Homo sapiens: one gene and its partners. The protein of the gene in region 2 purifies or fractionates together with the protein of the main gene of each other region. This does not show direct contact. Each region holds a gene or a part of one and is shown on either strand. Other genes may lie near its edges. The genes, in order: PITRM1, LNP1 and NDUFAF5.

Evidence for each region.
Region 1: the proteins of LNP1 (region 2) and PITRM1 purify together in Homo sapiens (affinity purification with mass spectrometry; one large-scale study listed by BioGRID and IntAct). This does not show direct contact.
Region 3: the proteins of LNP1 (region 2) and NDUFAF5 purify together in Homo sapiens (affinity purification with mass spectrometry; one large-scale study listed by BioGRID and IntAct). This does not show direct contact.

Annotation. Positions count from the first base shown.
Region 1 is NC_000010.11:3,141,709-3,145,362, reverse strand, and holds part of PITRM1 (presequence protease, mitochondrial isoform 2 precursor), read left to right. Parts: exon of another isoform or gene 1-392; intron 393-996; coding exon 997-1,071; intron 1,072-1,376; exon of another isoform or gene 1,377-1,507; intron 1,508-1,587; exon of another isoform or gene 1,588-1,861; coding exon 1,862-1,974; intron 1,975-2,274; exon of another isoform or gene 2,275-2,391; intron 2,392-3,593; exon of another isoform or gene 3,594-3,654. UniProt on the Homo sapiens protein: Metalloendopeptidase of the mitochondrial matrix that functions in peptide cleavage and degradation rather than in protein processing. Has an ATP-independent activity. Specifically cleaves peptides in the range of 5 to 65 residues.
Region 2 is NC_000003.12:100,404,392-100,408,045, reverse strand, and holds part of LNP1 (leukemia NUP98 fusion partner 1), read right to left. Parts: intron 1-3,654.
Region 3 is NC_000020.11:13,815,939-13,819,118, forward strand, and holds part of NDUFAF5 (arginine-hydroxylase NDUFAF5, mitochondrial), read left to right. Parts: intron 1-524; coding exon 525-608; intron 609-936; coding exon 937-1,019; exon of another isoform or gene 1,020-1,020; intron 1,021-1,179; coding exon 1,180-1,272; 3' UTR 1,273-3,180. UniProt on the Homo sapiens protein: Arginine hydroxylase that mediates hydroxylation of 'Arg-111' of NDUFS7 and is involved in the assembly of mitochondrial NADH:ubiquinone oxidoreductase complex (complex I, MT-ND1) at early stages. May also have methyltransferase activity.

The DNA of each region.
Region 1 (3,654 bases), on a different chromosome or scaffold from region 2:
TGCCTTGCAGTGAGTAGTCTGATAGGAAAACAGACTTTGGCTGGAATACGCTGGCAGAGGAATGGCCCAAACCGTAGCCTGAAGGCTGTTCACTGCTGTTTCTTTGACTCATGAATCCATGGATTTGACATGGAACAGTGATGTCGGTGATAACTAACTTAGTAAATTTGATTAACTTAGAGAGTTGTAGTCTAGTTCATGGATGTCAGTAGAGAAGCCGTGCTGCTCCGTGGAGGAGGTTGACGCTCATGTCTTCTCCGTTGGTGTCTGCGTATCCCTGGTTCAATTCTGGATGTGGTCTCTCTGTTGGCCCCTGGGAGTGGAGCCTTTGGGAGGTGGCCTCCTGCTGCTCCAGGCCCCTCTGCCTGCAACCCTTTCACCTTAAATGTCCTCTTGATTTGACAGATTAATGACAAGAAAGTGCAGAAAGAAAGGTTAAAATATTTTCTTTGTACCATATAACAAGGCTACCTTTTCCTTGACTGTCTGAAAATTTATTTTAATATTTTCTTAATTTCTTTTACTCACTTTATTTCTTTTTTTAGTTTTTGTTATTTTGAGACAGGGTCTGTCTCTGGCACTCGGGCTGGAGTGCAGTGGTGCCATTACAACTAGCTGTAGCCGTGACCTCCTGGGCTCAAGTGATCCTCCAATCTCAGCCTCCCAAGTAGCTGGGGCTACAGGTGTGCACCACCATGCCCAGCTAATTTTTAAAAATTTTTTGTTGAGATGGGAGCTCACTACATTGCCCAGGCTGGTCTCAGACTCCTGGACCCAAGCAATCCTCCCACCTCAGCCTCCAAAGTGCTGGCATTATAGGCATGAGCCACTCTGCCCAGCCTATTTTTATTTTTTTTAAGCGTTTATTATTTAAAACACTTACACCTGCCCTAACACTTGTTATTAGCTGTGTGAATTTTATAAACTCTGTTACTTCTTATATATTTCAAGTGAGTTCTGGATTTTTCTCTTTTCTCTTGGAAACTTGATTTTCAGAAACCTGTGCCCAGCAGCTCTGGTGGAGATGCCCACGTTCCCCATGGCTCCCAGGTCATTAGGAAGCTGGTCATGGTAAGAACCACAGCCCATCCGGGTTGCCAGCGGGTGGGTGCTTCCCTGCATGGCTGTGTCTGCCACTGATGTTCGAATGTTCCTCCGTCCGCCTGTCTGTGGGGCTGGCGTGTCCCTAGAGTTGCGAGTTCAGTGCATCCTTTGTCACTGCCACCCTGAGCCTTTTCTCTCTCAGACAGTACTGAGTGAAGGCCCTGGTGGGGGTGTGTCCTCCTGTGCCGAGGAGGGCCCTGGTATGGGGTGCGTCTTCCCTGTGCCCAGGAAGAGGGCTACTGCTCTGGGTGGTCTCCTCCCGGGCAACTCACCCTTCTTTGAACGTAGCTCCCGAGCTGAGTCGATGCCAGTGGAGCGGTCTGACAGATCCTTTCCGCGACTCAGCCTGGTGCTGATGCTGTTTGGTTTGGTTCCTTGTGGAGTAGAGTGATTTAACACATTCCTATGATATAATATGATATGAAATATAAATATGTAACTGTGATATAAACGGCGTAGAATGAAATGTTTTTAATTGAACAGTATACGTTAAGGCATCACGTCAAGATTGGAGGACTTCATGTCAGTTTTACAGTGAGAAATTGTGTGGAGTGACGGAACTGCAGTGCCTTGCTCTCGCGCCCCAGCACCTGGCTGCAGAGTGTCACGGAGATGGGACCCCTGAGATGGCTCCAGTCCCAGTGCCGTGGGCAGTGCGTGGGAGCACAGCCGCCTCTGACCCCTGAGTGGGTCCAGTCCCAGTGCCGTGGGCGGTGCATGGCAGCACAGCCGCCTCTGACCATACCGTGTCCCTCAGGAACCCACCTTCAAGCCCTGGCAGATGAAGACTCACTTCCTGATGCCCTTCCCGGTGAATTACGTGGGTGAATGCATCCGAACTGTCCCCTACACGGACCCAGATCATGCCAGGTAGGAGGGTGTAGGTCGGGACCTCTCAGGCCTGAGCCTTACGGAAGAGCTTGTCAAGGCTGTTCGAGTTCACAGGGCGTGTTTTAGCACAGGAAAAGTCTGTGCTGACTCTGAGTGTTGGACCTGGGGCTGTGTGAGTCTACGAGTGCTCCTCTTTAACCAGCAGTCTTTGTGAACAGAGACCCAGTTTTAGAGCCAGTCATTTTTGTAAACAATTTCTATTATTGAGGAGTCCTATGAACAATACAGATACCTATGACCTTAAACACAGACTGCTTTCAACATGCCCCATGTACTCACCTCATCTCTAGGTAAAAATCGAATGAATTTAGGCTGAGATTTCTGATAAACATGGTAGGTTAAGCCTTCATGAGGACAGATGCGTGAATGACAGCAAAGGCAGATCAAGACACGAAGCTACAAGGGAAAGAGTGGGAGGTGACCCGGAGAGCCATGGGGGCTGCAGGAGAACCTCGTGAGCCAGACTCTGGGTGGGTGGGGGGTGCCTGACCTGGGGCCACAGAGGGACAGGGCAGTGGGGAGAAACCAGGTGGTCCTGCAGAGCCCTGCAGATGGCAGGGCTGGAGGCCGCCTCACAGTCCCTCTAAGGAGTTTGTCTCCCCTGTCTCCCCACCAAGTCAGAAGCTCAGGGAAGGAGGCCCTGGGTTGAGCAGCCGAAGCCACAGCCAAGAGTCAGGGTCAGGCCTGTTCCCAAAGTGGCGTGGGGCGAGGGAGTTTGCAGCCTACAGACTGGCCCTCCAGCCCCTTCTTCCGAACTCTGGCTGCCCCTTGGCTGTGTTCATCCCATCTGGGGAAACTGGCCAGACCAGGACAGACTCACAGACGTGCACCTTTGGGGACCCGTCAGTTGGGTGTGTATGACACAGATATGTGCAAACATGTTATATCCCGGAAATTCACTTCCTGTGTCCTTGTCCCAGGCAGCTACCCCCATGAGGGACTAAACCAAGGAGTGAGCCTGGTAGAGAGGGGGAAGGCAGGCTTAGGCCTGGGCAGCCTGTCCTGATTGGAGAAGGAGCCGGGCCTCCGAGGTGCACGTGTGTCACAGAGGGTCACAGATGGGGAGGTGTGTAGGAGGCAGGCGGGAAGAAACGTGGGGCTGCAGTGGGGGCCCAGAAAGAGCTGGCTGTAGAAGTATGTGGTCAGCTGTTTTGTTCATTTATTTCCATATTTGTAGAAGATGAACAGATCTGTCTGCTATGCCGGCAGAAGAGTGGTGTCTGTTTCCACTATCCAACAGGAAAATGTAGACAGAAAACACTAAAAATGTGGAGGTTCCCCCTGGGCAGTGGGATTCCAGATCTTTTTTTCCTTGTGTTTTGTATTTTATAATCTTTCAAAAGTGAGCATGTTTTTAATATACAAGTAATAGAAATTTCTCAGGAAGGATAATGTGTGGACGGATGGAACGCCATCCCTGCCGGTGCTGGTGGAGACTCCGTCCCCCAGGGTCTGACTCCAGCCTCGCTAGTCCCGGCTGACGGCGCCCCAGCCACCCGAGTGGCGCTGGGTTTCTCCTGGAGGACCCACACGAGATGGTCGTGACTTCTCCCACCACAGCCCCTGGGAACACGCCCACTCCTTCCTTGATTTCCCACCTGGCCTATTTGACTCCCTTCATCCACTTTAGGAAAAGGCCTGTCTGTGGAAGCGGCGACC
Region 2 (3,654 bases):
TGTTTTAAAGAAGCTCAAAGAACTTCAGAAAATACAGAGAAACAAGTCAACAAAATTAGGAAAATAATAAATGGTCAGATGAGAAATTTACCAGATAAATTGAAATAATAAAATCAGACCAATTTTGGAGCTGAAAAATACAATGAATGTAAAAATGTAATAGAGAGCATCAAGAGCAGGATTGATCAATCAGAAAAAGAATCTGTAAACTTGAAGACAGGTTATATGAAAATATACAGAGGAGAAGAAAGGAAAAAGAGTGGAAAGGAATAAAGAAACTTTATAGGGTTTATGGGATAGTATCAAAAGAGCAAATACGCAAATTACCAGCATTCAAGAGGGAGTAGAGAAAGATAAGGGTGTAAAAGGCTTATTTAAAGCAGTAATAGCAGAAAACTTCCCAAACCTGGAGAAATATATAAATAGCCAGGTACAGGAAGGTCAAAGATTTGCAATTAGATTCAATCCAAATAAGACTATCACAAGACATATTATAATCAAACTCTACAGATCTAAGACAAAGACAGGATCCTAAAAGCAGCAAGACAAAAAAAGCAAGTAACATATACGGCAGTTCCAATATGCCTAGCAGCAGATTTCTCAACAGAAATCTTACAGGCCAGGGAAGAGTGGTATGATATAGTCAAAGTGCTAAAGGAAAAAAAAGACTGTCAATCAAGAATACTGTACTCAGCAAAACTGTCATTCAGAAATGAACATGAGATAAAGACTTTCCTAGTCACACAAAATCTGAGGGAGTTCATCACCACCAGACCTGTCTTACAAGAAATGCTAAAGGGTGTTCTTCAAGCTGAAAGGACACTAATGATAAACACAGAAACATCTGAAAGTATAAAACTCCCTGGCAAAAATACGTACATAGCTAAATTTAATTTATAATACTCTGATACTGTAATGGTAGCATTTAAATACTGTAATGAGGGTGTGTAAATCACGTATCTTTAGTAGGGCTAAAAGATAAAAGTATTAAAATTAATAACTACAGCAACTTGTTGATGGATATGCAATATAAAAATACTTAAATTGTGAAATTGAAAGCACAAAATATTGAGGAAAGGAAGTGGAGTTAAAGTGTAGTTTGCATGTGTATGTGTAAATAATCAAAGTTAACTTGTTATCAGTCTAAAATAACCTGTAATATCTATGTTTTTTGAAGCAAAAACCGACAATAGATACACTAAAAATAAAAATCAGCCAGGCGAAGTGGCTCATGCCTGTAATCCCAGCACTTTGGGAGGCTGAGGCAGGCGGATCATGAGGCCAGGAGTTTAAGACCAGCCTGGCCAACATGGCAAAACCCCGTCTCTACTAAAAATACAAAAATTAGCCAGGCATGGTGGCGGGCACCTGTAATTCCAGCTACTTGGGAGGCTGAGGCAGGAGAATCGCTTGAACCCGGGAGGCGGAGGTTGCAGTGAGCCGAGATCATGCCATTGCACTCCAGCCTGGGCAACAAGAGCAAGACTCCATCTCAAAAAATAAAAATAAAAAAATAAAAATCAAGCAATCAAAAACACCACCACAGACACATTTATAATGTTTAAACAAGTATCTGGGTATCCCATGGCCCAGTCAAATTGACACATGAAATTACCCATCACACCACCTATATTCTGGGCTCTGGCTGTACAAAATGAACAGTTTCTGTCCTCGTGGGGCTTACATCCTATTGAGGGGATCACACTATTTTTTTATTTTTCCCACAGACAAGTGTACACCTGAGAGGTTTTTTTTTTCTTGAGGCGGCATCTCACTCTGTCACCCAGGCTGGAGTATAATAGGGTAATCTCGGCTCACTGCAACCTCCGCCTCTGGGGTTCAAGCGATTCTCCTGCCTCAGCCTCCTGAGTAGCTGGGATTACAGGCATGTGCCACCATGCCCGGCTAATTTTTGTATTTTTAGTAGAGACAGGGTTTCACCATGTTGGTCAGCCTGATCTTGAACTCCTGACCTCAGGTGATCCACCCGCTTCGGCCTCCCAAAGTGTTGGGATTACAGGCACAAGCCACTGCACCCGGCCCACATAGGTAATTTCTAATAGTGCTAGGTGCTAATATCGTAGACCAAAGAAAGAGAAGAGGTGTATGAAGGGAGGCATGGGTGGGCAGAAATGTTGAACTTTATAGTGAAAGTGAAGAGGATTTAAAAGTCTTTCAGCTCAAGAGTGAAATTACAGTTATGCTATAGGAAGAGTAAATTGATATCAAGGTGCAGGGTGACACATAGAAGAGAGGCACTAGAGGCAGAGAAATTATCTGGGAAGCAAGCAAATATAGGATTTAGGCAAGATGAAGGAAATGAATAAAAGAGAAAAAAGAGGGGAATGTAATAGTATTAGGAGTTGAGGCCTTTGGGAAGTGATTAGATCATGAGGATGGAGCCCTTAAAAATAGGATGAGTGCCCCTATAAAAATGAGACTCCAGAGAACTTTCTTGCCCCTTTCCACTATTTGAGGACACAAACCAAATTTGCAGTCCTCAACCCAGAATAGGGCTCTTACAGAATTTGACCATGCTGGCACACTGATCTCAAACCCCCATCCTCAGGAATTGTGAGAAATAAATTTCTATAGTTTATTAGCTAAGTAGTTTTATGATATTTTTGTTATAGCAGCCTGTACTAAGATGGGAAGAAACTATTTATTGAGTATCTGTTATGTGTTATACATACTCTTAGGAGTTTTCACTTATATGAACTAAGAAGTGTCAGAATGGGTGAAAAAACTATAAGAAAGATATTACAACAAAGTTGAATTTGTTGAAGACTTCACAGCTGATTTTGTGTTTATGTGTGTATATAAATACAACAGCATAATCATTTGTGCTTGGGTAGGTAAGGATGAAAAAGAGAGAGGTCTAAAAAGGTCTATGGTTTCAAATATGAGTAACTGCTAAGGTAATAGTGGTATTATTAGAAAAAATGGATAACACAGGCTGGGTACAGTAGCTCATGCCTGTAATCCCAGCACTTTGAGAGGCCGAGGCGGGCGGATCACGAGGTCAGAAGATCGAGACCATCCTGGCTAACACGGTGAAACCCCGTCTCTACTAAAAATACAAAAAATTATCCAGGTGTGGTGGCGGGCGCCAGTAGTCCCAGCTACTCGGGAGGCTGAGACAAGAGAATCGCTTGAACCCAGGAGGCAGAGGTTGCAGTAAGCCGAGATCACACCACTGCACTCCAGCCTGGGCAACAGAGCGAAATTCCATCTTGGAAAAAAAAAAAAAAAAAGGATAACACAAAGAGAAAGAATGAGTGGGGAAAATGATGAGTTATATTTTTGACAAAAGTCAGGAATCCAAGCAAAACTGCTCAGTAAGTAGTAAGAAATATAGGGCTAGAGGTAAAAAGGGAAGCTATGCCAAAAGATATATAGACAGTGATTATCTGCACAGAAATGGTACCTGAAGCAATGAGATTTACTTTGGTTACTAATGGAGAGATTGAAGATAAAGAAGAAGACATATTCTAATAAATTCCTCACTTGAGGAATATCTAGAGCTGTGCTGTCCAATATGGTAGTCATTAGCCACATGATACTACTTAAATCAATTAAATAATGAAAACTGTAGTCTTTGTCACACTACATTTCAAGTGCTCAATAGCCACATGTGGCTAGTGGCTACCATAT
Region 3 (3,180 bases), on a different chromosome or scaffold from region 2:
GTGGGATTAGTAAAATATTGTAAATCTGAGAGCACATAGTAGCTTTGGTACTATCTAATGAGTTTCAAAGCCGTCTTCCAAGTTTCACAGTCATACTTGCATTATGGCTTAGGAGTGAGGCATTGTTGCACTGACCTGTCCTCCTCCAAAGAGCAGCTAAAAGCATGAGATGTGACATCCTTGGTAAAGTTCTTGCCAATTGCTGACAACTCACCTGGGGTGGCAGTCACCTGGCTTTTGCCCAGCGGGCTTACTTTAGACCATTGCTGGCAAGTAAAGCATTGTGGAGCTGCCTCCTGAAATTTCACTTGCCTGTCTTAATGTTGAAAAAGTTTCAAGTAGTTTCGCTTTAGAGTCACTAAGAAACCCAGTTATAATCTGAAAGTGAAATGAGATTTAGGTTTACATGACCCTTAGAGAATGAGGACAGGTATACTGTTAGATGAGACGGGATTAAGTCTGTGGTATTGAGCTGTTCAGGGTGTTTGCTGTATTATCTCAAACTACCTGTAGTGTATTTGTAGGTATGGGTGAGAGTAACTGTGCTTGGAATAGAAAAGCCCTGCTGCATCGAGACACAATGCTGGCAGCTGCGGCAGTGTACAGAGGTAAGGGGCGACCACTCTTTCACCCGCCTCACCAAGGCACTTGTGCTGTATCATGTTGATTCCCTTCACGTTGCCAATGCATTTTCCATTCCTGTTAAGGCTCCCTCAGACTTCTTGTCCTTCCTCTCAAAACACAGATCCTGTAGCTTTTTCCAGACAGCCTTTACTATTTCCTTACCCTCAGTATTAAGAATTTTTCATGTAAGATGTTCTCAGAATCTTACAAGTATCCTTGTACCCATTTCTTTTTGAAGAACATGACCTTTATTGAGCAGAAATTTTTTCCTACTTGCATTTTTTCAGACTTTAACCATTATTGTCTTTTTAGAAATGTACAGAAATGAAGATGGTTCAGTACCTGCTACATACCAGATCTATTACATGATAGGATGGAAATATCATGAGTCACAGGTAACGTTACTAAGATGGATCACTTTTCTTAGTGGGTTCGTGTTCAGATTATTGTTTACTAACTTGGGGGAAGGGGTAATGTAAGACAGCATTAAGGGCTTTAATTGGGGCTGTGTATTATCTATCTATTTCTAATATCTTTAATCTTTATTATTTTCAGGCAAGACCAGCTGAAAGAGGTTCCGCAACTGTGTCATTTGGAGAGCTAGGAAAAATAAACAACCTTATGCCACCGGGGAAAAAATCACAATAAATATTTATTCAGTGTTAATGTCGTCCAGAATTTTCATCAGAAATGGATAGCTTTAACATCTAAAATTATTATATTTTGAAGCAAGAAGCACTCTAAGCTATTTACTAATAGGCTTTTCATATAATTAGGAAAACCTAATATCACATCTATAGTAACCATTTCAGTTTCATATTGTTTCTGTTCTCATAAGGATACTGCTGAGTGTCTTTGCAGATTCAGCCTAAAAGCAAAGAAAATATTTCCCTAAAATATTTGCAAATAATGTTCACATATGTAAATGCCTTGGAAAATATTACTCATGCTGACCTTTTACACCTTTTTCATTTGTCATACTGTTTTCTTTGCCTTGAAGAGGAACAGATGAATATGCACCTTCTCCAGAGTTATGTGGTTTTAGAATTTAGAAGAGCATGTATCTTTATTAAATCCCTCCTCAACTCTTTTTTTTTAAAGCATCTGAATTTAACCTTATTTCTTTTTTATCTCCATGGTGTGGGTGGGACCACCATGGTTTTACACCCCACCCTACCTTAGGGAAGAAGAAAACATTTTAAAGAATACCAGAAGTAGAATCACATGTAACAGTCTCTGCACAGTCATCAGTTTATTGTTAAGCTTTCCTTTGTAATTTCAGGGCTTAAGCACTATTATCCTAATCCAAGTTCACAGTCCTGTTGTTGTCGAGGAGGGTTCAAAATCATTTGGAGATAATCAAGCTCAGACAGCTTAGGATAGGTGAGAAGAACATAGAGGAAGCAGGGAGAAGGCTGAGAAGCAAGCAGGAGTGAGCGCTAAGTGTTTTGTTTCCAGTTAGCTGTTCGCTGTCTTTTCCATTTAACCTGGGCACTGCCCTAGCCTCATCTTCAGCCTTCAGTGATCTATAATAGCATTTCCTTCTGTCTCCTCTCAGTCTCTCTTCTGCCTTCCTTCCCTCCTTTACTGTATTAGCAACAAGCTGTCCATGGGTGGGGGCTGTGTGTTAGCCTGTACGTAGCACATGGGACTTTCCACATAGTAGATATTCAGTTACATTTTGAACTAATTATATAACAAACTTGCCCTTTGAAAGACTAAGTTATAGTTAAAAACCAAGATTTGTAGGAGAAAAAGAAATTATTGTTCCCTTCAGTTTGAAAAATCATCGATATTTGAAACTGGGATACGCTTGGTAGCTTTTTTGTTTTAACACAAAGTAAACCTGTGAAGTAGAATTTGGCGTTTTGTTTTTTGGGGTTTTTTTTTTTTTTAGCTTAATTTTCAGAACTTGAAGAGAGAGAACAACAACAAAAAACAAACTGCGCTAGCCAGGTGCAATGGCGCATGCCTGTAGTCCCAGCTACTTGGGAGGCTGAGGCAGGCAGGAGTTCAAGGCTGCAGTGAGCTGTCTGTGCCACGGCACTCCAACCTGGGCAAAAGAGGAGACCTCATCTAAAGAAAAATCCACCAAAAACCCTGTGTTTTAAAGTGCAAACTGATGATGGAGGAATGGGTAAATTCCAGGGGTCTATATTTCCAAAAGGACATGTGTTTTTGTGCACTAATACTTGTTTTTGAAGAACACATCTCAGTGTTAAGTGGCTGTTGCTGAGGAAGGGGACTGAGGAACTGGGTGTGTCTGTGTCATTCTGTTTGAATGTCTGTCAGGGGTATAGAAACTAGGAGGGAGACTTGTACTTTTCACTTTTTAAACTTCCTGTAAAATTTGAATTTTCCAAGCAAGAATATTACTTTTGCTTATTTAATGTCAACGGAATTATATGTGGATGGTGGGGTGGAGCTAAGGATTACTCTACTCTGGCTATCCCAAAAAAAGCTCCATTTGTTTAAAAAAATTAAGTAAATCAAACACAGCTAATTGAGGACCCTTATTGTTTAATGTGAGTGATTGTAGTGAAAACACTTATTTTA